Linked DNA regions of Homo sapiens: region 1 is linked to region 2. The links come from fine-mapping of genetic effects on gene expression. A gene starts in region 2. The other region holds a variant in brackets. All regions are shown on one strand. Distances are between the middles of the regions.

What was found. PIP is the estimated chance that this variant, and not a neighbour inherited with it, causes the effect.
Region 1: its variant is fine-mapped to the expression of TMPRSS5 in testis (GTEx, PIP 0.93).

The regions. Positions count from the first base shown.
Region 1 is chr11:113,553,719-113,569,888 of GRCh38, forward strand. No RefSeq gene overlaps it. Among named protein-coding and RNA genes, the nearest start is that of DRD2, 86 kb to the left of the region's middle. RefSeq lists an enhancer at 1-498. The variant G/T (reference allele first, on the strand shown) is at 7,938.
Region 2 is chr11:113,700,928-113,717,097 of GRCh38, forward strand. It overlaps TMPRSS5 (transmembrane serine protease 5), which reads right to left and starts at 5,381. Exons shown (of 13, transcript NM_030770.4): 1 at 5,295-5,381. The coding sequence starts at 5,297. It also overlaps the pseudogene MTRF1LP1.

The sequences.
Region 1 (16,170 bases), 150 kb before region 2:
GAGATAAAAGAGAAGCTTTCAGCCTGCTACTTTCAAGCATCTCATCTGCAGACAAAATCTTCATGCATAATATTTATTCCCAATAAATGAAAAACCAAAATGAAATGCACTTTTTCTGTTTTAATATTGGTTTTTGAAGTACTAGAGACACGTTGATATGCTATATGAGAATTTTGAGTAGCTACATGCAGCTTGCTGATTTGTTCAAGGTGATTGTGAGGCAAACAATTCTCATTGTCTTTTTTTAATTTCAATGTGAGTGTTCCTTATACTTCCTCTCTTCAACCAGTGATCCATTAGGAGTAAAAATTAAACAAAATATGACTAATCATAGGAACAGTTCCACCCACTGGGGGGCGTTCACACCCACCAGAGCATGGAGTGGTGTTTAGCTGAAGGACAGACCCCTACATATGCTCACTCCATATGCACCTGCAGCAACCCAACTGTTCCTTTTAGAGGGAAGAGAATATTTAAATAAGCATTCTGTTCATTGACTGTTATGAGCTAGGAGACAGGGACTTTAAATGTCTTTAATGAGAAGGCCCAACCCTATTGCTCAGGCCCAGGCCCAGCTGGCGGTGAGTGAGGCTTAGAGGATGAAAAATATAAAGAGGCACCACTCTCAGGGCTGACCCCACACAGGAGCAATTCTGAGAGTGGGTGCTGCCTTAAGATATAGGAGTTAAAAACAAATTATTTAGGCAGATAGTGAGGGTAAGGAAGTCCTCACTAAGGTTTTCCTTTTAATGAAAAGCAGCCCCAAAATCATTTTCTTTTCTAACAAAGAGCAGCCTGTAAAATCGAGCTGCAGACATAGAAAGGGAAGCTGGAAGTTTGCACGGGTGAATGCCGGCAGTTATGTCAATAGAAATAGGCTACCTGGGACTAGGCATGATCAAAATTTGGCTCCATCTTCCTGTCTCTTTGCCAGCCACATGTACAATAAGGAGCAGGCAAGATCCTGGCCAAGTGGAAAGCCCATTTGCATAATAAGATCAGGGTGGGGCTACCAGCCTTTCACTTCGTGCTATGTATATGTCACACCTTGTGGAACTAATCTGTGGGCCCTATGTAAATCAGACACCACCTGCTCAAGCCTGCCTATAAAATCTGCTGTGGTATGCCTCAGGCCAGTTTTTCCCTTTCAGATGCCCAGATGTCCATCTCTCTCCTTTCTTCTGCCTATTAGACTTTCTGCTCCTTAACCCATCCATGTGTGTCCGTGTCCCTAATCTTCTTGGCGCCAAATGACGAACCCCAGGTATTTACCCCAGACAATGATGCTGCTTCACTTATGTTTTGTACCCTACTCACCTCCCCCAGGGCCTGGTCCCATCCCCCTACACCTCCCCACACCACCCCCCACCCCCAACACACACACAAACTGCAACTCAATCTTTCCATAAGTCAGTGGTTAGAAATAAAACAGCTGCTTGCTCCTAAAACCTCCCAAACCAGAGCTGCATTGAACTTGCTGGGCCTGTGATGGGGGTTTGTGCACTGGGTGCTGGTGCTCTTGGCTTGTGTTGGCTCATGTTAGTCACCACCACCTGTGTCTCTCTGATGTTGGGTTTTACTGTATCCTTATGATAACTTGGGTGTTAACAAAAAAGTTTTCTTTTTTTTTTTTTTTCCAAGAAATTCTCTTTTATCTTGCAGAAAGAAAAGCACTTTAGGAGGAAAACTCAAAACAACAGACGTCACTGATGGTTGAGACTCCCCTACAACTGAAACCAGTTTTTAAATGATGGCTCTCTTAAGCCAGAAGGAATTCCCAGAGGCCCTCAGGTCCAGCCTCCAGCATCCAGCTAATTGTAGCTCAGCAGCTGCATCTCGGGCTGGGCAGCAGGGAGCTGCTGCTTCCTCCTTGCAGTATACTGGGAAGTCTGTGTCACTGCAGAATGCAGGAAATAATATTTACCTTATACATTTGACAGGTTGTTAGGAAGACCTGAATAAAGTAATCTACATTGTACTACTTGAGCGCTATAAAATGAAAGAAGTTACTTAAAATCTCTAGGAGTAGGCGGGCGCAGTGGCTCATGCCTGTAATCCCAGCACTTTGGGAGGCCAACGCAGGTGGATCACTTGAGGTCAGGCATTCAAGAGCAGCCTGGTCAACATGGCAAAATCCCATTTCTATTTTAAGAAATTACAAAAAATTAGCTGTGCATGGTGGCATGTGCCTATAATTCCAGCTACTTGGGAGGGTGAGGTGGGAAGATCGCTTGAGCCTGAGAGGTGGCAGTTGCAGTGAGCCAAGATAGCGCCACTGCTCTCCAGCCTGGACAACAGAGTGAGACTCTGTCTCAAAAAATATATATAAAATAATAAAATAAAATCTCTAGGAGTAGTTAAACTTTACATCTCTTCATTACTATTTCAGCATATAGTCAACTGTGTGGAGAAAGTTTCTCCCTACTTCTAATTAGCTTCCCGTGCTGCATATCTTATCTGTCCTCTGAAGGTAGATAAAACCATGTTTGAATCCAAACTCCACCATTCTTAGCTGTGTGACTTTAGGTGAGTCGTCTAACCTCCCCAAGCACCCCATTTCCTTATATGCAAAGTGAGAATGCAATGTCTCCTTCAAAGGGCTATTATGAGGGTTGAGTGCAACAATGCAGATTAAGTACAGGGAACACTGGCATTGTTCATAAACAGTCTCGCTGCCAAAACAAAACATCAGAGTTACTCAAGATCCATTTCATCCTCTTGTTCTTCTCCAGAGTTAACACTCCTGTTGCCTCTAGCTCTTCCCAATTCTCCAATCCCTGATTTTTAAACTAGTGATTCTTGAGTTCTTTAGGGTTCTCAACGTTATTAAGAATCAGATGAAAATTTCAGACCCTCTCCACCGAAAATTTCAATGGCAAACTTTTGCATACAATTTCAGGAGGCTCAGGAACCTTTCAAAGCCCATCCATGTGCCCCTTCCCTGGTGAGGAGAGTGGACCCCAGATACGAAACTCAGTTTTGAGAATCCCCCTACGGCCCCCACCCCCTCAAAGGCAGCATCCCAGAAGCCGCCCTCTCTGCAGTTTCTGGTTCCTGCTGGCCTCCTACCCTAAGGATGCAAATTATCAGCAGGCCAAGGCATCTTGGAGGAGCCTGAGGTTTAGGAAGAAAGAATCAAGCTAAGAAGTGGACCTCAGCACAGCCTGAACCTGGCAGAACGAAGGCCCAATTACCAACTTCAGACTTTCAAAATGTCAGGTCCAGTTTATTGGAAATCTTTCTCAGCTAAGAGGCATTCACAGAACCAAGAGGAGAAGTTGAGACAGAGGCAGGAGCTACCATGGCTGGCAGATGGGAGGCATCCTGGAACTTACAACTGATGCAGGACAGGCAAGCCCCAAAGTAGGGCTTGGCCCGCCAGGGTTCTTGGCTTCACCCAGGAAAGAACTCAAGGGCAAGCCGCTGGCAGGGTAAAAGAAAACAGCTCTATTGAAGCGGCAATGTTGCAGCTCCAGTGGTGTTACTGCCCCGTGACTGCTCCAGCAGAGCAGGGCTACCCCACAGGCAGTGTGCTGAGGGTAGCAACTCAGGGCAGTTTTGCAGTCATATTTATACCCATTTTTAATGACATGTAGATTAGAGGGTGGTTTATGCATAAATTTCTAGAGAAAAGGTAGTAACTCCTGGGTCATCCGGTCATTGCCATGGAAAGGGGCAGTAATTCCCTGGTGTTGCCACGGCAATGGTAAACTGACACAGCATACTGGTGGGCGTGTCTTATGGAAAGCTGCTTCCACCCTGTCCTTGTTGTAGCTAGTCCTCAACTTGGTCCAGTGTCTGGTATTCGAGCCCTGCCTCCTGAGAAGTCCCTTGACAGTATCGCAAAGACCCCAAAGGACAGGTTTAGGAACTCTTTCAAAAACCTATTCTCCCCTGATGGAAAAAGACCTTTATGGTAAAATACACATCTCTTCTACAAACAAGCTGCTGAAAGCTGGCTATCACTATCTCCAGCCATGACCATAGAGAAACCATTCATTTGGGGGCGCTCAATTAGACATATTTTGAGTTCAGACAGAGGTCCAGATGAAAGATCCCCTAGAACAACCTAGGAGAGGTGATGGAAGTCAGACAGATGGCTGAGTTGGCATTCTACTTTTCTGGAGGTTACTTAACTTTTCTGAGCCCAAGTTTCCTCATCTAGGAAAGATGGGTAACTCCCATATCCTGCGGTTGAGTTGAGCATTAAATGAGGTGATATACGTAAAGAGCCTGGCATATAGTAAGCTCTCAGTGAATGACAGCTGCCATTATTATGGTTATTAGTGTTACTCATGGGCAAAGGGGATTGCAAAAATATTCCCATTCACTAAACATGTGTTAAAAGCCTACCTTGTATAGCAGTAACAGGCAATATGCATACAGGATCAAAGGAAGAATGAACCACATTCAGATAATTACATTCTTTATTTACCACCAATTGTTGAGATGCTATTTGTTCTTGTAGGCCTCTAAGGACCTCCCTCTTGCAGAGAACATTTAATGTGGTTACCCCGTGGTTGAGAGATTACAGCTACTTTGGGGCCAGATGAGAAATTCTATAGTTAGACTTTCGTTCATTCAGACCGGCCTTTGCCCTTGTTAATCCTAATTAATAAGAGTTTGCTATAAAGAAGGAAAACCAAATTGACTGGACACCTGTGAGCTAGAAGCTTTCACAGATACTTATTTTTGTTTTGTTTTGTTTTGAGACTCTCGCTCTGTCACCCAGGCTGGAGTGCAGTGGCATGATCTTAGCTCACTGCAACCTCTGGCTCCCGGTTCAAGCGATTCTCCTGCCTCAGCCTCCTGAGTAGCTGGGACTACAGGCACATGCCACCACACCCAGCTAATTTTTTGTATTTTTATTAGAGACGGGGTTTCACCATGTTAGCCAGGCTGGTCTCGAGCTCCTAACCTCGTGATCTGCCCACCTTGACCTCCCAAAGTGCTGGGATTATAGGCATAAACCACTGCACCCAGCCTTCACAGATATTTTATTTAAGCTTTGCAACTCTGCTAGGAAGGTATTATTACCCTCATTTATGAAATGAGAGATTTCAGCTTAAGAGAGAACACTCTTTGTTTGAGATCACAAATAGAACCTCTGGGATTTAAACACAAATCACTAGGACACACCGTTCAGCAAACTGCCTTAGCCTGTTTCCCTCAGAAAGGCCACTTAAGCCTCCACAGCCCTGGTAACAGCTGGAGAGAGTTCAGGCCATTTCAGAGACACTGTGTGAGGAGGCTGAGGGGGACAAGAGAGCAGAAGACATTTCTCCACCTCAGTGGTCCTGTTAGAGAGAAGTTGTATTGGACACTTTTAAAATGGCAAAGAAGACTTTACTCAAGACTATTACAATAAGGGTCAAGACTATTGCAATAGGAGAGAGAGGCTGAATCAACTCCAAATACAATAGGGGCCGCTGAAGATTTCTAGCTAATAGGCAGGGTGGGGGAGAGGATGGAAAATCACTAAGAGAAACTCTGTCAGGTATCAAGGGTAGAGGGGAGGAGAAACTTGATTGGCCACAAGGATGCAGGGATTCTCAGTAAACTGGCTTAGCAGGATTCTTGCCAAAACTGGAAAGAAAAAAAAAGTTCCAATAATATCAGAAAATAAAAAAAAATTAAAAATAAAATAAATAAATAAATAAAATAACTGGCCTCAACAGGCCAAAGATGGGGGCTAAGGATGAGGCCTAGACAAAAAGATGGCTTGGAGGAGCCTGACTAAAGTTTGGTCAAGGAGGGAGTTGTTGTCCTTCCAATGTGTTAGACTGCAAAAATGGCCACAGGTCTCCACTCCTCCCCGTACCCATGTCTTTTGTAATGTGACCCAAGCAATTCCCATCAAGAGCGGAAATCTCTCTGCACCCCTTGACTCTGGGCTGGCCTTACAGCTTGCTGTAACTGGTAGAAAATGGAGGGAGCAGCACAGTGTCAGTTCTGAGCCTAGATCTCAAGAAGGCCTGCTTTTGTCCACGCTTGTTCTCTCTTTCCCTCTCTCCCGCTCTCTCAGCAGCAACCAGAGGAACCGAATAGCAGATCCCAGCCCAAAGTGCTAACCTATAGAATCATGAGCTAGATAAATAGCTATTATTTTAAGCCACTAAATTTGGGGGCTGTTTGTATGAGGCAGTAGATAACTAATACATTCTAAAATGTGTCCACAAATTGAAATCATTTGAGAAGCCTTAAAACATACATTGATGGGTAGGTTTCCCCCACCCCCACCCTGCAGAGTTTCTCATTTACTCGGCCTTGTCTGCAACCTCCACCCTGGGGGTAGGGGGGTCTTAAGGTCCCCCAGGTGATCTCAATGTGTAGCCAAGGTTAAACACCACTGCCTTAGCTCCCCTGGCCTGGGCCATCCTGAAGCAACCCAGTTGGACTCTCCAGCTGTGCAGAGGATTTGCAGGAGGTACACAGGTCAGTTACAACGTGAGCTATTATCAGATGCAAGGGCCCATGGATCAAAGTCAGTGTTTCTCAAATTTTAATGTGCATCCTGATCACCTGAGGCTCTTGTTAAATTAAGATTCTGATTCAGTCGATCTGGGGTAAGGCTTGAGATCTTGCATTTGTAACACACTCTCAGGGGATGCTGAGGCTGTGGACTCTACTTTGCTTGGTCTATGAGATCTTCTTTACACTCACTCCTTCCAAACACCCTTTGTAGGCTTGGCAGCTGCCTCTTAGCTGAACTTTCTCAGATGTACTGTTGTAGCCTAGAGGAGAATAATCTCCAAAAAGTTGCCTAGCCTTGGGGTGGGCTGCTCAGCAGCCTCTTGGAGGGGCACATAGACAGGGCCTAGGGCTCTTCTTGGCTATTTTATACTCCCATGGAATTGATTCTAGAACAGGGGCTTCTGACAAATCTAAAGAAGAGTACTGTATTGGTTTGCAAGGGCTGCCATAATGAAATACCACAGACTGAGGGGCATAAACAACAGAGTTATTTTCTCACAGTTCAGAAGGCTAGAAGGGCAAGGTCAAAGTACCAGCAGGGTTGGTTTCTCCTGAGGCCTCCTCCTTGGGTTGCAGATGACTGAATTCTCATTGTGTCCTCCCATGGTCACACTTCTGTGTGTGTCTGTGTCCTAATCTCCTCTTCTTACAAGGACGCCAGTTATATTTGACTAGGGCCCACACTAGTGACCTCATTTGAACTTAATTACCTCTTTAAAGACCACATCTCCAACCAAATACAGTCATGTTCTGTGGCACTGAGGGTTAGGATTTCAACATATGGGCCGGGCATGGTGGCTTACGCCTGTAATCCCAGCACTTTGGGAGGCCGAGGTGGGCGGATCACCTGAGGTCAGCAGTTTGAGGATTTCAACATATGAACTTTGAGGAGATACAATTTAACCCATAACAGGTATGCACTTCCCATTCTTCCCGTGTGGAACTAGCAGCAGGACCAATCTTACCAGTTGCAGTCCTGCCTGGCAAAGCTATGGGTGGGAGGTAGCTTGCAAGGCTGTGAAGCACTTTCAAAGGCAGAAGGACCAGTACAATAAAGCTACATTTGAAAATGAAGAATAAGCTAGTGTGGCCAGAATGTATACAGAACACCTGAAGTAAAATAGGATTTTATCTCCAAAGCAACCATGCCATAGCCTGAATCCAGAGTGTTCTAGGCAGACCAAAAGCATGGAATAAAAATTGATTCGGACTGAGGAAATGGTAAAGAGATACTCACAAAACACCCAAGACCACACCACGGAGCCACAGAATCATTTGGAACAGGACTCCTGGGAACAAAATGCTGCCAAAACTTAAGGAGGAAAGTGGGGAAATTCTCTGAGTGCCAATGCAGCACCTTTGTCATCTTACCTTCTTACTGCTTTGTCATCTTACCTTCTTACTGACCTAGTTAACCTCCTTTCCTCACTTGAAACATGAAGTTAAATCCACTGCCTCAAAGG[G/T]TTACTATGAAGATTAAATCACAAAATGTATGTGATGGAACCAGGCTTATTGATGTGCAAATGTGTCAACATTCCCAGCCTCCATCCAACTTTCTCCACTTTCCTAACCCTCATCATACCCTGTCTGAAGAATTTTGCTCAGCTTTTCCTCACCCCTGGTCTTTCAGGGGAGTTCTATCTCTGCCCCATTATCTGGCTTTTTGTGGTACAAATTGGGAAGGATGAAGGGAGAGAGAGAAGCAGGAGAGAGGGAGAAGGCAGAGAGACAAGGTTCTTGTCTTTTTTTTTTTTTTTTTTTTTTTTTTTGAGATGGAGTTTTGCTCTTGTTGGCTAGGCTAGAGTGCAATGACACGGTCTCAGTTCACTGCAACCTCCGCCTCCTGGGTTCAAGTGATTCTCCTGCCTCAGCCTCCCAAGTAGCTGGGATTACAGGTGCCTGCCACTACGCCTGGCTAATTTTTGTATTTTTAGTAGAGACAGGGTTTCACCATGTTGTCCAGGCTGGTTTCGAACTCCTGACCTCAGATGATCCACCTGCCTCAGCCTCCCCAAGTGCTGGGATTACAGGCATGAGCCACTGCACCTGGCCAAAATATTTTAAGAGAAAAATCTGAAGCCACCAGGAGTGGGGTTCAAACCCACACAGACATATGTCCATTGGCTCTTAAGTCCAGTGCCTTTAACTACTTGGCCATCCTGGTACAGGTGGTTCTTGCCTATTGAGTCAGTCCCCGGGACAGCCCTTTGGTATGGACAGTCACATAATTAGCAAACAGAGGAGAAACTAAAGCTGATGCCAGAGGCTTTAAGTCTGTCCGCCTGGTAAAGATCTCAGGGACAGGAGATGCAAGGAAGAAAAGAAAACAGCAGCAAAAACACTAAAGCTAAATGCCAGGGAGCACTGTGGAGTAATTGCCAAGTAAGAGGTTCTGAAGTAGGCTGCAGAGTGTGGGAGACCAAAGAAGGAAAGGCAATGTTGAGAGATCTACTGCAAGGCTTGAATTCAATCATTTTAATGTTCTTTGAGAGATGGCAGTAAAGACTGAAATTTCTGCTTAATTACTTTTGGTTGTTAGAATTTGTTTCTTAAAACATGACTCAATGCAAGAGGCTGGTATGCATGAGACCCTGGGTTTTGTTGGAGGGAGGTGTATTATCTCTGTATCTAATCTCCCTTTGCAGAGTCTCTTCTTTTGCACTTAGTAGCTACTTAATAAATGGTAGATTACCATTGTTATTATTATTATCATTAGCCACCAACCTCATGCTCTGGGGCTGAGATTCACATTCTTCTCAGACATAACTTGATGTTTTGGAAATCCTCCCTCCTGCCATCTCCTGAAAGACTCACCCTACAGACAGTTGGTTTTAGAATGACTGGAAGAAAAACTGGTTTGACCGCGTTAAAGCGAAACAGGCAGGAAGCCATTAGCATGGGGTTGTTTCTGTACCCAAAACCTTCTTACAAGCAGACTAAAACTTAACTTAGAGGCCTTCCTTATAACTGAGTAATTCTGAATTGCGCTTCAGCCAATCACAGATGGTCAACCAACCGACTGGTTATATAACTAGGGGATCTCCCATTCGACCATACCCAGGTAAGGCAAATGCTGCTATAACCAATCAAGTCATTTCTTTATTTCTGCATTCAGCTTATAAAACCTCGCTGCCGTGATGCTGGAGCAGAGTTCTCTGAACCTCATCCAGTTTTGAATGCTGCCTGACTCACGAATCCTGTAATGCTCAAATAAACTGTTAAATGTATCTTGTCTAAAGTTTTTATTTTAACAGCTGGTTACCACTTGTCTCAGCCTCCTGAAGAATCCCAACAACAGGCTCTATTCCAGAGACTTTCGAATCCAAGGCAAAGATATCTCTACTCTAACCCATAGACTCCTGGGCACAGTAGAGTCATTGGAGAATCCACAAATCCACTGGCTCTTTAAACCTTGCCTATGTGCTGAAAAAATATTTTAGCCAATGTACAAGCTATTTTTGAAATGTATGTACTGCTACTAGAGTCAGAGTACTTTCTGTCATTTTCTATCTTCTTAATATATACTTTTATACAATTGCATTGTGTTAAAAAGAGACCCAAAATATTCTTCATGTAAAAAGTGTTCTGATAAACAAACAAAAAATGCTAGTAATCTCTGATATAGAGAATCTAATCTCTGATATAGAGAATCTACAGAGATTCTCTAGGCTGTGGAACTCTCCAGCCCTCACGTGGTAAATAGCAATTGAGTTTGTACTTTGAGTTGTTTAATAACAGCACCTTGAGCCTAAGTGATACAGTATAATAATGATAGCCTGAGGGAAGAAGGCATCTCTGATTAATCACTACCTCACAACCAGCTCTGGGCACTCTCACAGAGCTGGCTTCATTCTGGATCCAGCTTTACTACTTATTTAGTGTAGCCTTAGACAATTGATGTCTCCACTGAGGATCTCAGTGTCCCCAGCTGAACAATGAGACGGTGTGGTTACATGTTCTCAGAATTAAGCTATTAAGCATGGACAGGGCTTGGGAGGACAGTGGCATTTTTCTGGCCTCCAGCTTACAAGGAAAGCACTCTGAATGAAAGGTGTGGACAAATGCAAGACAGTGACCCAGCCCTGACCTGAGGCTATCCACTGAGGGGCCAGTAAGGGAGCAGACAGTAGAATAAGGAGGACTTCCTGGGAGAAATGTCTCAGATCTTAGAGCAATTGTTTACCTAGAAGCGTAAGAGAACAACACATGCTGTGCCAGACTCCCAGGCAGGCTTAGATTACATAGGATGCATACAAGGTTTTCAAGTTTCACCCCAAAAGCCACATTAGTAAAGACTCCTTTTGCTTTTTCCATTATGCAAATCATCTTAGCATCTATTGATTGCATCTGCATGTGAAGAGGGACACTGGGTTTGTAACTAATGTATTTGCATGTGCATTTTAATTAATCCGCTTGCAGGAGGGAGGTGATTAGAGGGGTAGATATGGAAATATTGCTCTCTGTGGCTAATAGAATTTGGCACCTCTGGAGTGCTGTCTGACGAGTGGAATTATTGCAGGCAGGTGGGAGCTGGAGCATGCCCTTCCTGACATGCCCACAGATAATTCACGCTGTGGCCACCATGCACTGTCTCGCCAGCCTGAGGAAGGCAGAGAAATGCAGAGAGCAGGAGAGTTCTTGGATAGACAGATTCTGGTGGTCTGCCCAGGTCTGCATGAAGAACAGCTACTTTATGTTTACATCATTATGTTCTTACATCCATGTGGCTTGGCAGAAGCCATCAGAAAGCTATCACATTATGTCTCTGTGTTGGCAATGCAACTCCTAGGCTTGCCTAGTCAGAAGAAAGCCTCACAGCTGTTTAACTATCTTCTCTGCTCTTTGAAGCTAACATTAATATTATGCCTAATTTGCATCCAACATTTAAATGTACTCATTAAGCTATAAAAGCCACAGCACCTCTTGACAGCCCATTCTCTGATGAAGACTGCAGTCTTGTCAGAGGAATACGGAATATTCCCAGAATTTCTAGAATATAACTTCCCAAAACACATTTTACCCAAATACAAGGTTTTCGTATTAAAAAGGACGAAGTGACTTCTCTCCTGACTGTCTTCAGGGAGATACTGGGGAAGGGCACAGTAGCAGGGGAACCCTAGGGGCTGCCGTAATTAACTGTTGTGGAAAAAGAGTCAGAGTTCTGAAATGCCTTTGTCTGTTTGTTTGTTTGTTGTTGTTGTTGTTGTTGTTTTATCATTTACTCAAGATTCACGTGCAGAAAGAAATGAGTAGGACTGACAGCCAGCTTGAAGCCAGGAACTAAGCTTCAGTTCTTACAGCATCAGTTGCATGAATTCCCTTTTTCCTATGGGAACAACTTAAGATTCCCCACATATGTACTTTTCCAGTCATTGCGTTGGGCTCAATAGGTGAGTCAGGCCTTGTGCTCCAAGTAAACAAGCTCCAAAAGATAGCTAATATACATTTGGTACACCTGGTATGATAGTAAACAAGGCAAAACATGTACTTGGAAAGAGATTCAAATCTACGTGTTTAAAACACAGGGAAGTCTTAGATACAATGTAAAGAATGCAACTGAAAGGAAATTCATAAATAGATGAGAGACAGAGAAGTTTGAAAAGAAAGAAGGTGCCAGTATTTGTTCAGAAGAACAAAGAGGGAGTTTGACATTGAGAGAACAAAACGTTATAGATATTTGTTACTTGAGTTATTGACTTTTAGAATATGTGGCACAAAATTCTGTTGGCTGAGGAGAAGGTTGGTTTCCCTCACCATTACCCAAAGTAGAGCTTCATTCCAGCTTGGAGTCATCAGCCTATGCATCAAGACATCCCCCAGAAACAGATAGGGTGGTCCTGCCTGGAGAAACTCATGGTTCTCTCCTTGGACTTTGAATTCTAGATGGAAGTTTAGGGAGCCCTGCACAGAGAAGGCTGCTGAGAGATCAAATCCTAGCTGGAGAATCCAGGGCTCTGTCCTTGGTCGTCATCTCTAGTCAACCCACACTGAATCCCATGGGCATCTCCTTCATCCTCCCAGCTTGAAATCCCATCTCTATCCTATGTCTCCAAATGTATGGCCCTAGCCCAGGTCATTCTCCTGAGCTCCAGACTCAAGGGCTTCAGTGCTTGTACTGGAGGAGGCTAAGGCAAAGTGGGGTGACTTCAGACAAGAGCATAGGTGCCAAAGTAGAAAATCCCAAGGCATGTTTGCAGGAGGGTGAGTGCCTAGTGTGGCTAAAATTGAGGCCACACACAGGAAAATGGTGGGAAACATGGGAACAACAGGGTCACAGCACACAAAGCCTTCTTTCAGGGGGCCATTGGGAAACACAGCTGCATCTGGATGAGTGTTACAATCAGAGCTATATTTTACACCAATTAACCTGGTAGCAACCAGTAATATGGGTTCAAAGGAACTGAGGAAAGGGGCCAAGAGACTGGATCAGAGGCCAGAAGCAGGATGGTAGCAGAGGTGAGGAGAGAGGAGGTTGGATGTGAGAAACACTTTGTTCTGTTCCTCACAGACTCCCAGCTCCCCCTGCCTCAGGGCGTGAGCACCCAGTTTCCTCTGCTGGAGCCTCCCACCCAGGCTGCCTGCTGTCTCACACGTTCCTGTCCTCATGGTCTCTGTCATGACTTCCAAAGGCTAGTCCAGGCCCCAGCTTCACACTCTCCTTCACCGTACTTCTCGCCACTGCGTTGGCCACTGATGTGTGAGACTGGGAGTGTGACTATCCCTCTGGCCACACTCTCTCTCCACTCCACTGCTCTGCTCCCAGAAGCTTCCAGCCACTCCCAGCATGGCCCAGCAAGGCAGGCAGAGCTCCCAGGCCATCTCCAACAGCTCCAATGCATTCTCTCCTTGCTATTTTCAAAGGCAAATGGTCCAGAGGTTCATTAGATGCCTCTACTCAGTTGGAGAGGTGGTGACCTGTTCAGGAATATGGGGACATGGTGGACAGATTAAAAACCGGGAGCTTGTGCGTGCCACCTGCCCTCACTCATCTGTCTCCTCATTGTCTCTCGGGAAGCTCATCACTTCCTAAGCCACGATCTGCCACAATCCTCAGCAGGCTTTCAGAAGTATTTATCATGCTTCCAAAGTGATTGACTTCTGATGAGAGGTTCGGGAGCTCAGGAAAATGCTCCTGGCTTACAGTGTATTGTGAGTAAAAGAAAAGAAATAACAGGTACTCTTCAAGTGTGGGAGCTGGAAAAGATTCTAATTAAATGTCAGGGCTGGAGTTTAACCCACTTGAATTTGGTGTTTCTATTCTGGAGTCGTTGAGTTTCTCATTCGTAAACCTGGGCTCTGAAGCACCCAACCACAGATATCAAAATCATCCTTGTCATGTCCAGAGGAGACAAAAAAAGAGATCAGAGGTGAAGGGCTCATTTGTTGAGGTGGGATTGAAAGGGGACATGTTTTGAATTCCATCTTGGAGGAAGGTGGCTCTGAAGCAGAGACCACCATGGCTGAGGCGGGGGCTGGAGACGGATCTGTCCCTGGCATCACATACTCAGGAGAGCTGGCCTCACCTGGCCTCAGCACCCACCAAGACCCAGCTCTTGTAGTGTCCCATTCCCATACCTGTCCCAGAGACAAAGCCTAATTGAGGGCCCCATGGAGAGAGCCGGTGCCATATCAGAGCTTTACCAACGTGCTCTGGCGGGAAAGGCTGGCAGATGGGGGGCTCCGAGCCTGCACACATGTGGAGCCACAGGTCCTAGCCTCTCAGATGCCACAGTCACTGGCGCGGGACTCTGGGGTCCTGCTCTCCTGCTACTTGTCCCCAGGACCCCTCATTATCGCTACCATTATGAGGAAAGCAGGAGGGGGTCCCCTTACTGCCCCACCAAGCCAACCGTATTCTCTAGAAGAGCAGGGCTTGCGATCATAATGATAATCTCCATCCACATGTGTTCCCTGCTGAACAGTTTTCAAAGTGCTGCTTTTCCAAGCATTAGAAGGAATAAGTTCCTCCTTATGCTCACTCCAGCCTTGTGAGTACACGACTCTATATTCCTGTTGTGCAGCTAAGGAAATGGACTCCCAGAGGTGACCTGCCTTGCCTAAGTTCAAACCACAAAAACTGGCAGAGAAGGACTTCTCCTCCAGTGCTCTCTTTTCCACCAAGCCTCCAGAGCTGTACGACAGAGTGGGGGACCCGGATTCTCCCTGCAGGTGGAAAAACCAGCTGTGCACACTGGGCTTAATACCAAGAACTGCTCACCAGATCTGCAAATTCCTTTTCCTCCCCGGGAAGCCCAGACTGTGTGGGGGCTTAGAAACCAAGTCGAGAGATGTAAAGAAACCCAGGCAATGAGGTCTTAAAAAATAAATCCTTATTTTAAATATCCATTTAAACAAATGGATGCTAAGTATCTTTCTATTTTTTTTTTTTTTTTTTTTTCCTCTTGCCATCCACAGGTGCAAGAGGAGGGGCGGGGATGAGGGGAGGAGGGAGGAGGACAAGAATGAATGAAAGGCAAACAAATTCCCCCACTCCAGGCAGCAGCATAAACCACTTATTATTAACAGAGGCCCCAAGAGAGTCTTGTTTTTAATGTAATTTGGATTAAGCAGAGAAGGAACACGGGCTCCCACACACACCTTGGCATGATTAAATCAGCTACAAAGGCTGCTAGCCTCCCCTCCCCCGAGGGCTATCACTGGGGCTGGAAATAATTCCAGCTTCTAGACAAGGGATTTGGAGTCCAGGCCATCTCTGTGCCCCAAGGAAGTCCAGCACATACACGCTTGGACAGGGCCAGATAATGCCACCCTCCAAGCAGACCAGCAATCACCTGTCATCTCACTACCCAGGGATTCAACCTCAAAATTGGTTTTCTGTGTTCTCTGAAGACAATGAAGAGCACTTACCCAGAAATCAGCAAGCTTGCCATCAGGTCCTAGCTCTGTCACTCCACTAACAGGGTGAAATGACATTCCTTCTCTCTGAAAAGCTGGCCTGCAAGGGCACTAAAGCCTCACTCAATGCTGGCATTTCATGAGATAAAAAGTGTGCTTTTTCAAGTCCTGCTGTGCAATGTTTTATTCCCACCCTCCCACCCCAAGGACCCACAGAGTGTCCACCACTGAAAGATATCTTTAAAATGTTTATTAAATTAATAAAGAAAGGAACTTCCCCTTTTATCCTGTAAGCTCAGCAGAAGATTTTTGTGTCTGAGCTCTATCACATTTCTTCTTCAGAGTTCTCTGTGGATATGGAAGATCCTAGCTATTGAACTATCCAGTCCCAGAGGAGGGACTGACATGCCAGGTTAGAAAAAGGGTAAATCTATAGCTTGCATTTATATATACTCAGGGGGTAGTGCTTAAAATACTTAAAAACTGGTATGGCAACGATAAATCAGGACAGATGCCTGTTTTGGCATCCAGTACTGCCTCACCAGGGATCTGTGAGTATAGGGAACAGCAGGCATGCATTTATACATGCTGGGTGCTTGGTCTTTGGGCTACTGTGAAGCGTCTTAGAATACATTGCTGTCAAGCTGGCAAACCCCTAGAAAATAGGTTTGAATGTTGTCATTATCCGGAGATATCTCTGTGTCTCTCACTGTGCTTGACTGTATTACTGCTCAGCAAATGTTCATTCTTTTAAGCCCCCAACCCCCTGGGAAGAGGTGCCTCCCACACATCAGATATTGAGTTTGACCATGCCACTTGCTTTGGCCAATGGAATGTGAG
Region 2 (16,170 bases):
TGAGTTCTCACAAGATCTGATGGTTTTATATGGGGCTTTTTCCCTCTCCACTCTGCACTTCTCTCTCCTGCCACCAGTTGAAGAAGGACATGTTTGCTTCCCCTTCTGCCATGATTGTAAGTTTCCTGAGGCCTCCCAGCCATGAGGAACTGTGAGTCAATTAAACCTCTTTGCTTTATAAATTACTCAGTCTCCAGTAATTCTTTATAGCAGTGTGAGAACAAACTAATACAGTAAATTGGTGCTGCTGTAAAGATACCTAAATATGTGGAAGTGACTTTGGAATTGGGTAACAGGTAGAGGTTGGAATAGTTTGGAGGGTTCAGAAGAAGACAGGAAGATGTGGGAAAGTTTAGAACTTCCTAGAGACTTGTTAAATGGTTTTGACCAAAATACTGATAGTGATATGGACAATGAAGTCCAGGCTGAGGTGGTCTCAGATGGAGATGAGGAACGTCTTGGAAACTGAAGGAAAGGTGACTCTTGCTATGCTTTAGCAAAAAAGTGAAGCATTTTGCCCCTGCCCTAGAGATCTGTGGAACTTTGGTGGTTTTTTTTTGGCGGGGGGGGGTGTTTTGTTCAACTTTATTGAGGCATAATGCACACTCAAAATATTACATACATTTTAAGTTCTCAGATCAAAACTTTGACAAATGTGTACACCCACATGACCAACACAGTCAAAATATAGGACATGAAGGTCACCCCAGAAATTTTCCTTCTGCCTTTTTGCAGTTAACTCCTCCCCAACTCACAGCCCTGGAAAATCACTGATCTGTTTCTCTCACTGTATATTAGAGTTCCCTTTTTTATAGTTTCATATAAATGAAACCATGTGACATATAGTCTTTCTTTTTTTTTTAATTTTTTTATTTTACTTTAACTTCCAGGATACATGCACAGAACTTGCAGGTTTGTTACATAGGTATACATGTGCCGTGGTGGTTTGCTGCACCCATCAACCCGTCATCTAGGTTTTAAGCCCTGTATGCATTCGGTATTTGTCCTAATGCTCTCCCTCCCCTTGTCCCCCACCCCCAGTCAGGCCCCGGGGTGTGTTGTTCCCCTCCCCATGTCCATGTATTCTCACTGTTCAACTCCCATTATGAGTGAGAACATGTGGTGTTTCTGTGTTAGTCTGCTGAGAATAATGGCTTCCAGCTTCATCCATGTCCCTGCAGAGGACATTATCTCATTCTTTTTATGGCTGCATAGTATTCCATGGTGTATATGTGCCACATTTTCTTTATCCAGTCTATCATTGATGGGCATTTGAGTTGGTTCCAAGTCTTTGCTATTGTAAATAATGCTGCAATAAACATATGTGTGCATGTGTCTTTACAGTAAGATGATTTATAATCCTTTCAGTATATACACAGTAATGGGATTGCTGGGTCAAATGGTATTTCTGGTTCTAGATCACACTGTCATGAGATCTGTGGCTCTTTGGACTTGAGAGAGATGATTTAGGGTATCTGGCAGAAGAAATTTCTAAGCAGCAAAGTGTTCAAGAGGAAAGAGAGCATAAAAGGTTGGAAAATTTGTAGCCTGATGATGTGATAGAAAAGAAAACCCATTTTCTGAGGAGAAATTCCAGCCTGCTGCAGAAATTTGCATAAGTAATGAAGAGCTAAATGTTAATCACCAAGACAATGGGGAAAATATCTCCAGGGCATGTCAGAGACCCGCAGAGCAGTCCCTTCCATTACCAGACCAGAGGCCCAGGAGAGAAAAATGGTTTTGTGGGCCAGGCCAGGACCCCCTGTTCTGTGCAGCCTGAGACATGGTACTGTGTGTCCCAGCTGCATCAGCTCCAGCCATGGCTAAAAGGGGACAAGGTACAGCTCAGATCATTGCTTCAGAGGGTGCAAGCCCAAGCCTTGGCAGCCTCCTTGTGGTGTTGAGCCTGCGGGTGCACAGAAGTCAATAACTGAGGTTTGAAAACCTCCACCTAGATTTCAGAGGATGTATGGAAACACCTGGATGCCCTTGCAGATGTTTGCTACAGGGATGGAGCCCTCATGGAGATCCTCTGATAGGGCAGTATGGAAGGGAAATGTAGGGTTGGAGCCCCCACACAGAGTTCCCACTGGGGCACTGCCTAGTGGAGCTGTGAAAAGAAGGCCACCATCCTCCAGACCCCAGAATGGTAGATCCACCAACAGCTTGCACTGTGAGCCTGGAAAAGCTGCAGCCCATGAAAACAGCCAGAAGTGGGGCTGTGCCCTGCAAAGCCACAAGGGCAGAGCTGCCCAAGGCCATGGAAGCCCACCTCTTGCATCAGCGTGACCTGGATATAAGGCATGTAGTCAAAGGAGATCATTTTGGAACTTTAAGGTTTAACGACTGCCCTATTGGATTTCAGACTTGCATGGGGACTGTAACCTCTTTATTTTGACCAATTTCTCCCATTTGGAATAGGTGTATTTACCCAATGCCTGTATCCCATTGTATCTAGGAAGTAACTAACTTGCTTTTGATTTTACAGGCTCATAGGCAGAAGAGACTTGCCTTGTCTCAAATGAGACTTTGGACTTGGACTTTTGGGTTAATGCTGGAACGAGTTAAGACTTTGGGGGACTGTTGGAAAGGCATGATTGTGTTTTGAAATGAGGACATGAGATTTGGAAGGGACCAGGATAGAATGATATGATTTGGCTCTCCCCTCACCCACAATCTCATTTTGAATTGTAATTTTGAATTGTAATTACCACGCACTGGGGGAGGGACCTCATAGTAGGTGATTGGATCATGGGGGCAGTTCCCCTATGCTATTCTCATGATAGTGAGTGAGTTCTCACAAGATCTGATGGTTTTATAAGGGGATTTCCCCCTTTACTCTGCACTTCTTTCTCCTGCCAGCATGTGAAGAAGAGTGTGTTTGCTTCCCCTTCCACCATGATCATAAGTTTCCTGAGGCTTCCCCAGCCATGCAGAACTATGAGTCAATTAAATCTCTTTCCTTTATAAATTACCCAGTCTCAGGCAGTTCTTCATAGCAGTGTGAGAACAGACTAATACACTACCATCATCATTCAAAAGAATAAGGGCTTACTTCTCATTGAGGTGATCACAGAAGGCTTCCTAGAAAAAGCAGCCTCTGAGACAGGCCCACAGGGATGAAGAGGGTTTGAGCTGATATAATGGGCATTGGGCAGTCCAGACAAAGAGGATTGAATCAGCAAAGGCAAAGGGATAAGAAAGCATAGAGCAGAGTATGTCATATGTGTGTCTGCAGCTCATGAGCCATGAAGAGGAGTAATGAAAATAAGATCTTAAAAAAAACACCAGACAGTTCAAAGCTAAGTCTGCAACCTACTATGTGAACTTGGACAACTCAGGCCATCTCTTCAAATTTCAATTTTCTCATTTGTAAAATAAGAGTAATAACTCCTGCTTTCCAAGGAATAATCTCCCTCCTCGAGTATCTTGTCTCTCTCTGTTATTCTCCATGCCATAAAGTCAGAGTAATCTTTCTAAAATGCAAATATGAGCATGTGAGCCCCATCTCTACCCCATGAGTCTTTGTGGCCTTCAGGATCAAACAGGAGCTCCATGGCATCGCTCACAAAGTCCTCCATGATCTCGCCTGGCCTCACCTCTCCATCCTCACTGCCAGCACTTGCTCCCTCCACAGCAAAATTTGGGATCACACTGACATACGTGCCATACTTCAGTGCCTTCAGGCACTCTCACAACAGAGAGACTTTGCATCTGCTCTCCCCTTTCCCATGTAACTGACTCCAACTGACCCTTCGAGACTCAGCACAGACATCACTTCTCCAGGAAGCTTCCTTCTATGCATACAGCACCTGTTGGGCCCTATATTGTGCTCATTTACTTCCTTCTCTCTCCTTTCTCACTGGTTTTTGCATCCCAGGGCTAAGCACAGAGCCTGGCACAAAGTGGGAATTCAGTTAAAGTACATTAAAGGAGGGAAGGAAAGAAGGGAGGGGGGAGGGAGAGACAGAGGGGGAGGTACAAATAAGATAATGTGAATTAAAATGACTTTAAAAATTGTAAAGCCCAATACAAATGTTAAGTATAATAATATTAATAAGAACTACACCTAAGCTGTGGATCCTTCCCCCCAAAATTTATAATCCAGTAGGGTAGATAAGATCTCTCAAAACTGAAGCAACTCCCGTTTCCCCTGCAGACTACTGTCTCCCCTGCATCTTTCCCTGTCAACACATAGGGTTGTACCCAATGAGGATAAAAGCCTGAAATGCTGACTCCAGGACAGTATTGGCTTAAATGTGATTTTCATGTGTCACATGAAATGTTCTTTTCACGCCAAAACCTCCCCAGTCATGCCTTCGTACTCCACTGAACTGTCTTCCTAACCCTCCAGCAGGAGGAAGGAAAGACTTTGTCAGACTCACCTAGGTCAGTCACCTCCAAATTGCCCCGAAAATCATTCCACTGGACCCAGAGCACCCATGCCAGTTCAGCTCACAGACAGCGCAGCAGCCCCAACATCTTGCCTATAGAAAGAGGTACCAGCCCCACCTCCCTATTCCCTACACCAGCCACAGCCCAGGACCTATAGGACTGGACCTCCCAAGAGCTGCAGGCCTTGCTTTTCCAGGAGAAACAGAGGTCATGGTTTGTATCAAACCACACACATTCTTTCTTGTGCCTACAGATGAGACTCACAGGACACAGGCAGTGAGGCTGCAGGACAGCAGGCTTGGGAGAGCCAGTCAAGCACCCATAAGATAGTAGAGAAGCAGCAACAGAAGGTGAGGTTTGGATTTCTTCTCTGGGGTTGTGTGATTGCTCTTGAGCTGATGTCCCTCTGAGTGGAGAGGCAGGCCTGATCTAGAGAGAATTCCAGGGCATGGCCAGTCTTTTCTTCTGCCTCAGTACCAAGGAAGCTTGGCTTTAAACCCAGCCTCTGAATAAACTGGCCTCACCTCATGTACTGCTCCACCTCAAAATTCAACTGCCCAAGCTCATGTGCTAGCCTAGAAAAAAAAATGGCCTTTAAAATTACAGGACTCCTTGCTCCTCTTTTTGAGTGGAAGTTCAACGTAATAACGATTTGTTGAGCACCACATATGTGCAAAGCACTTGATAGATCTAAGAGGGATGAAAGAGGATAATAAAGGGCAGTCCCTGGGGAGGAAACAGGAAATTGGCCACACAGGGCCCCTGCTAGGATCCAGCCCCTGTACCAGAGCTGCCTCAGGAGGCTCTTTCCACCAGCCTAGAATCCCAAGGGCAGAGGAGGGAGAGAGAAAGAAAGAGAGAGAGGCCACAGCAGGGATGGCACAGAGACGTAACCTTACCATAGGGGTCAGTGGCACTGTTGTAAAGCCTCAGGGTCTACTAGGCAATGTTCCGCTCCTGTTCTCAGGCCAGCATTGATTAAAGCTAGCCCAGCAAGCTTGGTTGGAAGATGAGGTCTCCCTGGTTCGCACATGGCCCCTCCCTGTATCCCTACTCCAACACTCACACAGACACGCGCCACAGAGACAATGAACTCTGCTGAGGACCCATGAATAGGCCCCTTGTTGCAGGAAAGGGGGACAAGGGCTGGGCTGGGCTAGGCAACCCCAGCCCCTCCCATCTGCTAACTGGAAACTCAGAAACAGAGGAAAAGGTTATGGGGAGGAGGGGAGGCCAACTACTGTTGCTTAGCAACAAGGTCCCTTGTGCCAAAAAGTGTGCCCCATGCATGCATGCTGGCAGAATTCTCCCTTCCTGCTGACAGAGCTGTATTGGAGAGACCGATATTAGCATTTGTTGAAATGTTTCTGAGCCCTCTGGATTTTATCTCGCCTCCATGTGGGTTGGCTTTTCTAGCAGTCTGGGGCTGTCACCATGTTGGAATTGTTGGGGTGATGATGGAAGATCTTTGTCACCTCTTGCCCGAGGGCCACATCTGTCTCCCCAATGCCAGGGAAGTGGGGCCTCTACCCCTGTCTGCCCTGGGAGCCAGTTGCAGCAGGAGCCCTCAGTGCTATCTTGTTTCAAAGCACAAGGTGACCCAAGTGAGCCCACACGGGGCTAAACACACCTGGGAGCAGGCACATCTCTTTAGACAAGGAGGCAGAATAGGTCCTGGGGAAGGCAAACACAGGTGGGGCTTCCTTTCCTCCAACTGGCTGCTCAAAAACCCCTCAGAAGGGACAGTTAAGAATATAGGCTTTAGAGTCAGGCCTTCATCCAACCTCAGTTCTCCCACTTCCCTTACTCAGCCTCACCTGTAAAATGAGGATAATAGTACATGCCTCATAGGGTTGATGTCAGAATTCATTGAGATATTGCCTATAAAGCCCATAGCCTGGTGTCTAGCACAGACTGTATTCAGCAAACAGTAGCTGCTATTATTATTGTTGTTGTTGTTGTTGTTGTTGTTGCTGAATGTCACCCACACAGGATTTAACTTTTTGCTCCCTATTTTCCTCATACACTGTATTAGTCAATTCTTGCACTGCTATAAATAAATACCTAAGACTGGACAATTTCAAGAGAAAAGAAGTTCTCACTGTTCCACAGGCTGTACAGGAAGCACAGTGACTTCTGCTTCTGGGGAGGCCTCAGGAAGCTTCCAATCATGGTGAAAGAAAAAGGGGGAGCAAGGCCTCTAACATGGCAGGAGCAAGAGCAAGAGAGAGAAGGGGGAGGTGCCACACACTTTTAAACAACCAGATCTCATGAGAACTCTATCACGAGAATAGCACCAAGTGGATGATGAATCATGAAGGTTTCTTGATCATGAAGGATCCACTCCCATGATCAAATCACCTCCCATCAGAGTCCACTTTTAACATTGAGGATTATAATTTGACATGAGATTTGGGTTGGGACACAGATCCAAACCATATCATACACTCAGTGTGTCAATTCTGAACTTACTCTCATCACACCAGAGCACACATAAGACAATGAAGAGATAGAGGTCAGCTGTGAATTATAGAAGAAGGAGAGAAATGGTGGCTGGAACTCAGAAGCCCTTGGCTAGGCTCTGAGGTCTCCTAGGACAATACTCTTCAGACTACAAACCTGAATATCTACCGTGTGTCAGAAACTAGCCTGGGCATGGAGGATGAACAAGTCACAGACTGGGTGCTTACAGACTGGAAAAAGGGATAGAAACAGATGTAAGTAACTGTTATTATGAAAAGTGAAATAACAAAGACATAAACCCAGAGGTATAGGAGAATAGAGGAATAGCTGCCCTGAGGATACAAAGAAGAGGGCTTTGCAATGGAGGAGACATTTGAACTGAGTTTTGAGAAGTGACAAAGCAATCACAAAGAAGGGTAATTAAAATATATTGCACGTAATGTCAATGAAAATGGTAGGAGTAAAATCCTCTGAAAATTTCCTCCCCCCTAAAAGCAATGAGAAAAATGGCAAAAAATGGTGAGAATCAATTTTTTCAGAACTCTGGAAATTAATCAAAAGTTTATAGCAATCTGGGAAGTCTTCGTTCAAGAAAAAAAATGACATAATTATAGAAAGAAGAGTGAGCCTTGTGGCATTTTAACTTGCTCCAATTCCATCCCCCTCACCCCAACTCTGCAGTAGCTTTGAAAACCAACAAACCACAATCATCATGGAAACCAGCAGCCTGGCAGCTACAAGAAGGGGTAGAACAGCCTTGGAGTTCCTTCAAAGCCTCATTCCCAGAGAGTTGTAATTATTTGACCTGTCTAGTGGTTCCCTGGAAGATACCATTTGCAAGACTGTCTTTATTTCACCTGTCTCAAAGCTTGCCTGGAGTGAACAGCTTTTTCCTTAAGGGTATTTGTTGAAAACAACTAGAGACAATTGTTGGACTTTGTGGCTGCCTAAAACAATGGATAACAGTTGAGGCAAAAAAAAAAAAAGGGCTAAACAAAAAGCTTAAAAAGAAAATGTGGGGGAATAAAATATCTATAAAGGGCCTTGAAAGGCTCTGAAATATCCCAAGGAATATAGAAAGCCATATGTACGCACAGGAGGGTGCACATGCCCAGGGCTGTGCACATGTGCAGGAAAAACTAAGGAAGGTCCTGAGCTCTCACCCTGGGCTAAGCTTAAGGCTCTGCACAAGCAGGAAGGCTAAGGTGGAGTTGTCAATGTCCTGTCTGAGAGTTGAAGGCATGTCCCAACATACACACAGAGCCACTCTGCAAAAACAAGGTGACTTATTGGTCTCAAGCATCAAGAAACTCTCTGTCTAATTACTAGCTGAACACTAAGCAGAGAGAGATTTCAGTGGCCACACATGACAAAAAACACAGACTTTGCAGAATTAGCTCAGAAAAGTCACTAAACACACAAAGAAGCAACATCAACAACAACAAACCCTGAGGAAGGGAGAGAAGGTTATTTCCAAAGTTGCTGTATTATATTATGTTATTTAAAATGCAGTTTTCAATAAGAAATTATGAGGCACACAAAGAAACAAGAAAGTAAGGCACATACACCGGGGGAAAAAATAATTGATAAAAACTGTCCCTGAAGCCCATATATTGAACTTATAAGATGAAAACTTTAAATCAGCTATTCTATATACATTCAAAGAAGTAAAGAAAACCATATCCAAAGAACTAGAAAAAGGTATGAGAATAATATCTTATCAGGTAATGAATATCAACAAGGAGATAGAAATTATATATTTTTTTCAAGAACCAAATATAAATTCTGGAGTTGAGTAGTATGATAGCTGAAATGAAAAATTTACTAGAAGGGCTCAACAGCAGATCTGAGCAGGCAGAAGAAAGAATCTGTGAATTAAAGATATGTAAATTGATATTATACAGTCTAAGGGATAGAAAGGAAAAAAGAATGGAGAAAAATGAACAAAGGTTCAGAGACATTTGAGATAACATCAAAAATATGTAGTGTGTGTGTGTGTGTGTGTGTGTGTGTGTGTGTACGTGTGTGTAATGAGAATCCAAGAAAGAGAAGAGAGAGGAAGCAGAAATAATATTTGAAAAAATAATGACCAAAAACTTTACAAATTTGATGAAAAATATTAATCTGCACATGCAAAAAAACTCAATAAACTTCAAATAGGATACATCAAAGAGATCCACACGTAAACACATCATAATCAAATTGTTTAAGGCCAAAGACAAGAAAGATTCTTGGAAGCAGCATGAGGAAAGCAACTTATCACATACGAAGGGATCTTCAATCAACAGTTTAACAGTTAAGAGTTGGCTTCTCATCAGAAACCATGGAAGCCAGAATGGCATATTCAATTCCTTAAAGAAAAAGATTGTCAACCAAAATTCTGTATCTAGCAAAACTACCCTTCAAAAGTGAAATAGTAATTTAGATAATCTCAGATAGACAAAAACTAAGAGAATGCATTGCTAGCAAACCTGTCCTACAAGAAATACAGTCATGTGCCACATGACAGTCAACAATGTACCACATATTCAACAGTGGTCCCACAAGATTATAATGAAGCTTTTATACTGTATTTTTAATGTATCTTTCCTATGTTTAGATACATAAATACTTAGTATTGTGTTACAGTTGCCTTCAGTACTCAGTATGGTAATATGCTATCCAGGTTTGTAGCCTCAGAGCAGTAGACTATGCCACATAGCCTAGGTGTGTAGTAGGCTATACCATCTAGGTTTGTGTAAGTACACTCTATTTCACACAATGACAAAATCGCCTAACAACACAGTTCTCAGAATGTATCTCCTTCATTAAGTGATGCATGACTATACTAAAGGGAGTCCTTTAGGCTGAAATAAAAAGATATAAGACAGTAACTTGAATCCACATTAAGAAATAAAAAATGCTAGTAAAGGAAAGTATATAGGTAAACATAAAAGACAGTATAAATGCATTTTTTTGTTTGTAATTCTTTTTGTTCTCTCATCTGACTTTAAAGACAATTGCATAAAGCCATAATTATAAATCTGTATTGATGGGTATATGGTGCAAAAATATATAATTTGTATGACAATACAGCACAAAGTAAGAAAAGAATGGAAGTAATAAGAGCAAAGATTTTTATACTATTAAAATTAAATTGGTATTAATCTGAATGGATTGTTATAATTTAAAATGTTAATTGAAATTATCAGGCTACTAAGAAAATAACTTAAAATGTATATAGTAAAAGAAATGACAGAGGAGTTAAAATGGAACACTAGAAAATAACTGTTTAACACAAGGCAGAAATGAAACAAAAACACATAAGACATATAAAAAACAAATAGCAATATAATAGACATAAATCCTACCTTATCAGTAGTTACACTAAGTGTAAATGGATGAAACTCTTCAATTAAAAGGTAGAAATTGGCAGAATGAATTTTTAAAGCCATGATCAAGCTATATACTATATATAAGAGACATATTTTAGTTTTAAAGACAAAATACGTTGAAGGCAAAGGGTGGAAAAAGAGGTTCCATGTACACAGAAACCAAAAGAGAGCTGGAATAACTATAATAATATCAGACAAAATAGACTTTAAGACAAAAATCATTGTGAGAGACAAAGTAGGACATTTTATAATGATAAAAGAGTTAATCCTGCCAGGCACGTTGGCTCACACCTGTAATCCCAGCACTTTGGAGGGCTGAGGTGGGTGGATCACTTGAGGGCAGGAGTTCAAGACCAGCCTGACCAATATGATGAAACCCCTTCTCTACTAAATATACAAAAATTAGCCAGGTATGTGGCATGCACCTGTTATCCCAGCTACTCAGGAGGTTGAGGTGGGAGAATCACTTGAGCCCAGGAGACAGAGTTTGCAGTGAGCTGAGATCGTGCCACTATACTCCATTCTGGGTGACAGAGATAGACTCCATCTTGAAAAAAAAAAAGAGTCATTTTCTGTGGGGCACTGCCCGGTGGCTCTGGCCCCATGGGGCCATTGGCCCAGCTTGCCATTCCCTGAGCTCCGGTGGCCCATTGTTGGAGGAGCTGTTCGCCCAGGGCAGGCCCTTGTGGACCTTTCTCAAGCTCCAGGCGGGGTCTGAGGCCCATTTGAAGGTCAGGAGGCCCGAGCTGGTGACAGTGGTAAAACTGCTGAACGAGAAGGAGCAGGAGCTGCAGGAGACCGAGCACTTGCTGCACCATGAGAATGAAGATTTAAGGAAACTTGCAGAGAATGAAATAACTTTGTGTCAAAAAGAAATAACTCAGCTGAAGCATCAGAAGAAACAGATGAAAATGATTTGATCCTGGAAGTAACTGCAGGAGTTGGAGGTCAGGAGGCAATGTTGTTTACTTCAGAGATATTTGATAGGTATCAGCAATATGCTGCATTTAAAAGATGACATTTTGAAACCCTGGAATATTTTCCAAGTGAAATAGGTGGCCGTAGACATGCGTCTGCCAGCACTGGGGGTTCAGAAGTCTATAGGCACATGAAATTTGAAGGAGGTGTGCACAGAGTACAAAGAGTGCCAAAGACAGAAAAGCAAGGCTGCATCCATACTAGCACCATGACAGTAGCAATATTACCCCAGCCTACTGAGATTAATTAATTGAATTGATCCCTTTACCATTATGTAATGGCCTTCTTTGTCTCTTTTGATCTTTGTTGGTTTAAAGTCTGTTTTATCAGAGACTAGGATTGCAACCCCTGCTTTTTTTTGCTTTCCATTTGCTTGGTAGATCTTCCTCCATCCGTTTATTTTGAGCCTATGTGTGTCTCTGCACGTGAGATGGGTCTCCTGAATACAGCACACTGATGGGTCTTGACTATTTATCCAATTTGCCAGTCTGTGTCTTTTAATTGGGGCATTTAGCCCATTTACATTTAAGGTCAATATTGTTATGTGTGAATTTGATCCTGTCATTATGATGTTAGCTGGTTATTTTGCCCGTTAGTTGATTCAGTTTCTTCCTAGCATCGATGGTCTTTACAATTTGGCATGTTTTTGCAGTGGCTGGTACCAGTTGTTCCTTTCCATGTTTATTGCTTCCTTCAGGAGCTTTTGTAAGGCAGGCCTGGTGGTGACAAAATCTCTCAGCATTTGCTTGTCTGTAAAGGATTTTATTTCTCCTTCACTTATGAAGCTTAGTTTGGCTGGATATGAAATTTCCGGGTTGAAAATTCTTTTCTTTAAGAATGTTGAATATTGGCCCCCACTCTCTTCTGGCTTGTAGAGTTTCTGTCGAGAGATCCGCTGTTAGTCTGATGGGTTTCCCTTTGTGGGTAACCTGACCTTTCTCTCTGGTTGCCCTTAGCATTTTTTCCTTCATTTCAACCTTGGTGAATCTGACAATTACGTGTCTTGGGGTGCTCTTCTCGAGGAGTATCTTTGTGGTGTTCTCTGTATTTCCTAAATTTGAATGTTGGCCTGCCTTGCTAGGTTGGGGAAGTTCTCCTGGATGATATCCTGAACAGTGTTTTCCAACTTGGTTCCATTCTCCCTGTCACTTTCAGCTACACCAATCAAACATAGATTTGGTCTTTTCACATAGTCCCATATTTCTTGGAGGATTTGTTCATTTCTTTTTACTCTTTTTTCTCTAAACTTCTCTTCTCATTTTATTTCATTAATTTGATCTTCAATAACTGATACCCTTTCTTCCACTTGATCGAATCGGCTATTGAAGCTTGTGCGTGCATCACGTAGTTCTTGCACCATGGTTTTCAGCTCCGTCAGGTCATTTAAGATCTTCTCTACACTGTTTATTCTAGTTAACCATTCATCTAATCTTTTTTCAAGGTTTTTAGCTTCCTTGCAATGGGTTAGAACATCCTCCTTTAGCTCAGAGAAGTTTCTTATTACCGACCTTCTGAAGCCTATTTCTGTCAACTCGTCATTCTCCATCCAGCTTTGTTCTGTTGCTGGCAAGGAGGTGCAATCCTTTGGAGTGGAAGAGGTGCTCTGGTTTTTAGAATTTTCAGTTTTTCTGCTCTGGTTTCTCCCCATCTTTGTGGTTTTATCTACCTTTGGTCTTTGATGTTGGTGACCTACAGATGAGGTTTTGGTGTGGATGTCCTTTTTGTTGATGTTGATGCTATTGCTTTCTGTTTGTTAGTTTTCCTTCTAACAGTCAGGTCCCTCAGCTGCAGGTCTGTTGGAGTTTGCTGGAGGTCCACTCCAGACCCTGTTTGCCTGGGTATCACCAGCAGAGGCGGCAGAACAGCAAATATTGCTACCTGATCCTTCCTCTGAAAGCTTCATCCCAGAGGGGCACTCACCTGTAGGAGGTATCAGTCGGCCCCTACTGGGAGGTGTCTCTCAGTTAGGCTACACACGGGTCAGGGACCCACTTGAGGAGGCAGTCTGTCCTTTCTCAGAGCTCAAACACTGTGCTGGGAGAACCACTGCTGTCTTCAGAGCTGTCAGACAGGGATGTTTAAGTCTGCAGAAGTTTCTGCTGCCTTTTGTTCTGCTATGCCCTGCCACCAGAGGTGGAGTCTACAGAGGCAGCAGGTCTTGGTGAGCTGCGGTGGGCTCCCCCCAGTTCAAGCTTCCCCGGCCACTTTGTTTACCTACTCAAGCCTCAGCAATGGCAGACGCCCCTCCCCCTGCCAGACTGCTGCCTCACAGGTCAATCTCAGACTGCTGCGCTTGCAGTGAGCAAGGCTCTGTGGGCGTGTGACCCACCAAGTCACGCATGGGATATAATCTTCTGGTGTGCCGTTTGCTAAGATCATTGGAAAAGCGCAGAATTAGGCAGGACTGCCCCGTTTTTCCAGGTACAGTCTGTCACAGCTTCCCTTGGCTAGGAAAGGGAAATCTCCTGACCCCTTGTGCTTCCTGGGTAAGGCGATGCCCCGCCCTGCTTTGGCTCCCACTCCATGGGCTGCACCCACTGTCCAACCAGTCCCAATGAGATGAACCAGGTACCTCAGTTGGAAATGCAGAAATCACCCATCTTCTGCGTTGATCATGCTGGGAGCTGCAGACCAGAACTGTTCCTATTCAGCCATCTTGGAATGGAGAAAGAATATAGCAGCTTAGTTCTTGACCAGTTTGGTCCTCTGTCTGCCCCTTTCATCTAGATTCTCCCTCAAGAAGGCTGGTAGTGGCTTGGGTGCTTAGTGGGGAGATCTCATATCACTTTTACACAAGTCTTGGCAGCCAGCATCCTCCCTAACTCAGCCCCCAGCTCTGGCCATTCTCATTACCATCAGGCTGGCTGTGACTTAATCATTCTGGAGGAGGCTGTATTCAAACCTTTGGTTTCTAGTATAACACAAGTTATCCTAGAATAGGCCCTATTAAACCCCTTGGTTTCTAGGTTTCTAAGGATAATATAGCAATTTTTATGTAGATTCTAATTTCTATTAACCTGGGTAATGAAAATGGAAAGGGGTCACTAAAGACTCCAAAATAATGATTAAAACAAACTACAGCCAACTGTCAATTATCCAAAGAGGAATTAAAACATGGAAACTATGAATACATTGTAGTCCCTGCTCTCAAAGGAGTTTATAATCCACTTGAGATGACAAACAAATACACCAAAGGGAGTGACCTGAGAGGATAGGTGGTAAAAGTAGATAGTGTGGGCTCAAATAGAATCAGCAGCCCTGAGTTCCACAGTGTCATGCTGAGGTCATGGTTTACACTGACCGTATTGAAACCCTAACCCTGGGAATAGTGCATGGTAGCATCTGCAGGCTGACAGTACCTAACCAGCCCTGAAGGAGTGGCTCAGAAGTCAGGTTCTGCTGGAGGGACAGGGTTTGGAAAGAGCTGGCAGAGGAATGACAGAAGGTCACCAGGGAAAGGAAGGCTGAGACAGGCCTATTTCCAAATTTTCCAGGGCAAGCTCTAGCCAGTGAACCCTGAGTTTGCTCTGGACTTGGTTTTTCCTATTGAAGATACCCAAGAAAGCATCAGGCAACATGACTGATCTTTTCCCTCACAGTTTTGGCCCCCAGGCCAATGGCTCTTAACCCTGGGTGGTTCACTGGAATCCCCTGGGAAGCTTGATACTAAAACAGTCATCCCTTGGCCCTATTTGAAACTCCCTGAAACATCACCCCTCTAAATGGGGGTCCTTGTGTCTGTTTTTACCCTGGTGATTCTGGGGAAGCAACATCTCAGCTAAGCTTCTCAGTCTTCTTTAGGCCTAGTAGGAGCAGCAGGAATTGGAGGAGGGAAAGTTGTGTCACAAAAGAGTTATTTTTAAAATCATCAGTTACCCTGAGTATCTTTCCATGGTATATGGTGTGCCATTACCTTGGACAGACTTACATCATCTTTGTAAAAAGAGCTGTGTTCCTCCATCAGCTGCCACACAGCCAAAATTCTACTCAAAGAGATCCATTGTGTTGGAGTGAGGCATTGTGTCTCCAGTGTCTAGCACAGTCTGGTACATATTAAGCGTATAGGCCAGGATAGGCCAGGTTATGCTGTAGTAGGGAGCACCTCCCAGGTCACAGTGGCTTAAAACAACAAAGGTTTATTTCTTACCTATGCTTCAGGTTCACAGGGATCAAGCTGGGGACTTTTGTCCACATATCCTCAGTTAAAAACCCAAACAATAGAGTAGCCTCCATCTGGAATGTTACTGGTCACAGTGGCTGAAAGAAAGAGGGTTCTGGAGGACTTCACACTGGAAATTAAATGTTCTGGCCACTTTCAGTTCATTAGCCCAAGATGTCACATGCTTCTGCCCAACCATGAGGAGACCATGAAAATGCAATCCTACAATATGCAGCGAAGCACAGAGCCAGAAATACATGAACAGCACTAGTAACTACCACAATGGGTATTCAGTAAATATTTGTAAAATAAAATAATGGATGAGCAGAAATCACCTTACAAGACAAGGTCATTAAGTCCACCTTTAACCCGCAATGACATTTTTTTTTTTCCCCTGGGATAAGAAAGAGGTAAGTGAAAGCAGGACTAAATGATTGAGCACACAGCTCTCCATCTTCTTTGTCACCCTGGTTGGCACAGCCCGTAGGGACTCTGGCTGGCCCTCTTCTCTCTGTAAGAGTCCCACTTCTGGAAAAAGGTAGCTCAGTTGCCCTGAGCCTCTGTAAGTCATGTTTGAGTAGTGTGAGAGATGGCTCTGGTGTTGCATGACAGTGGAATACTCACAATTATAGGGCGATCAGGAGCTGCTGAAACCAGCTCTGCTCTCCTTCAAGAGCAGATTTTAGATTAACCAGAGCTGGTTTCTTTCTCCCTGACTACCCAATTCACTGCTATCCCTATCAAGCTACCATTGACTTTCTCCACAGAATTAGAAAAAACTACTTTAAATTTCATATGGAA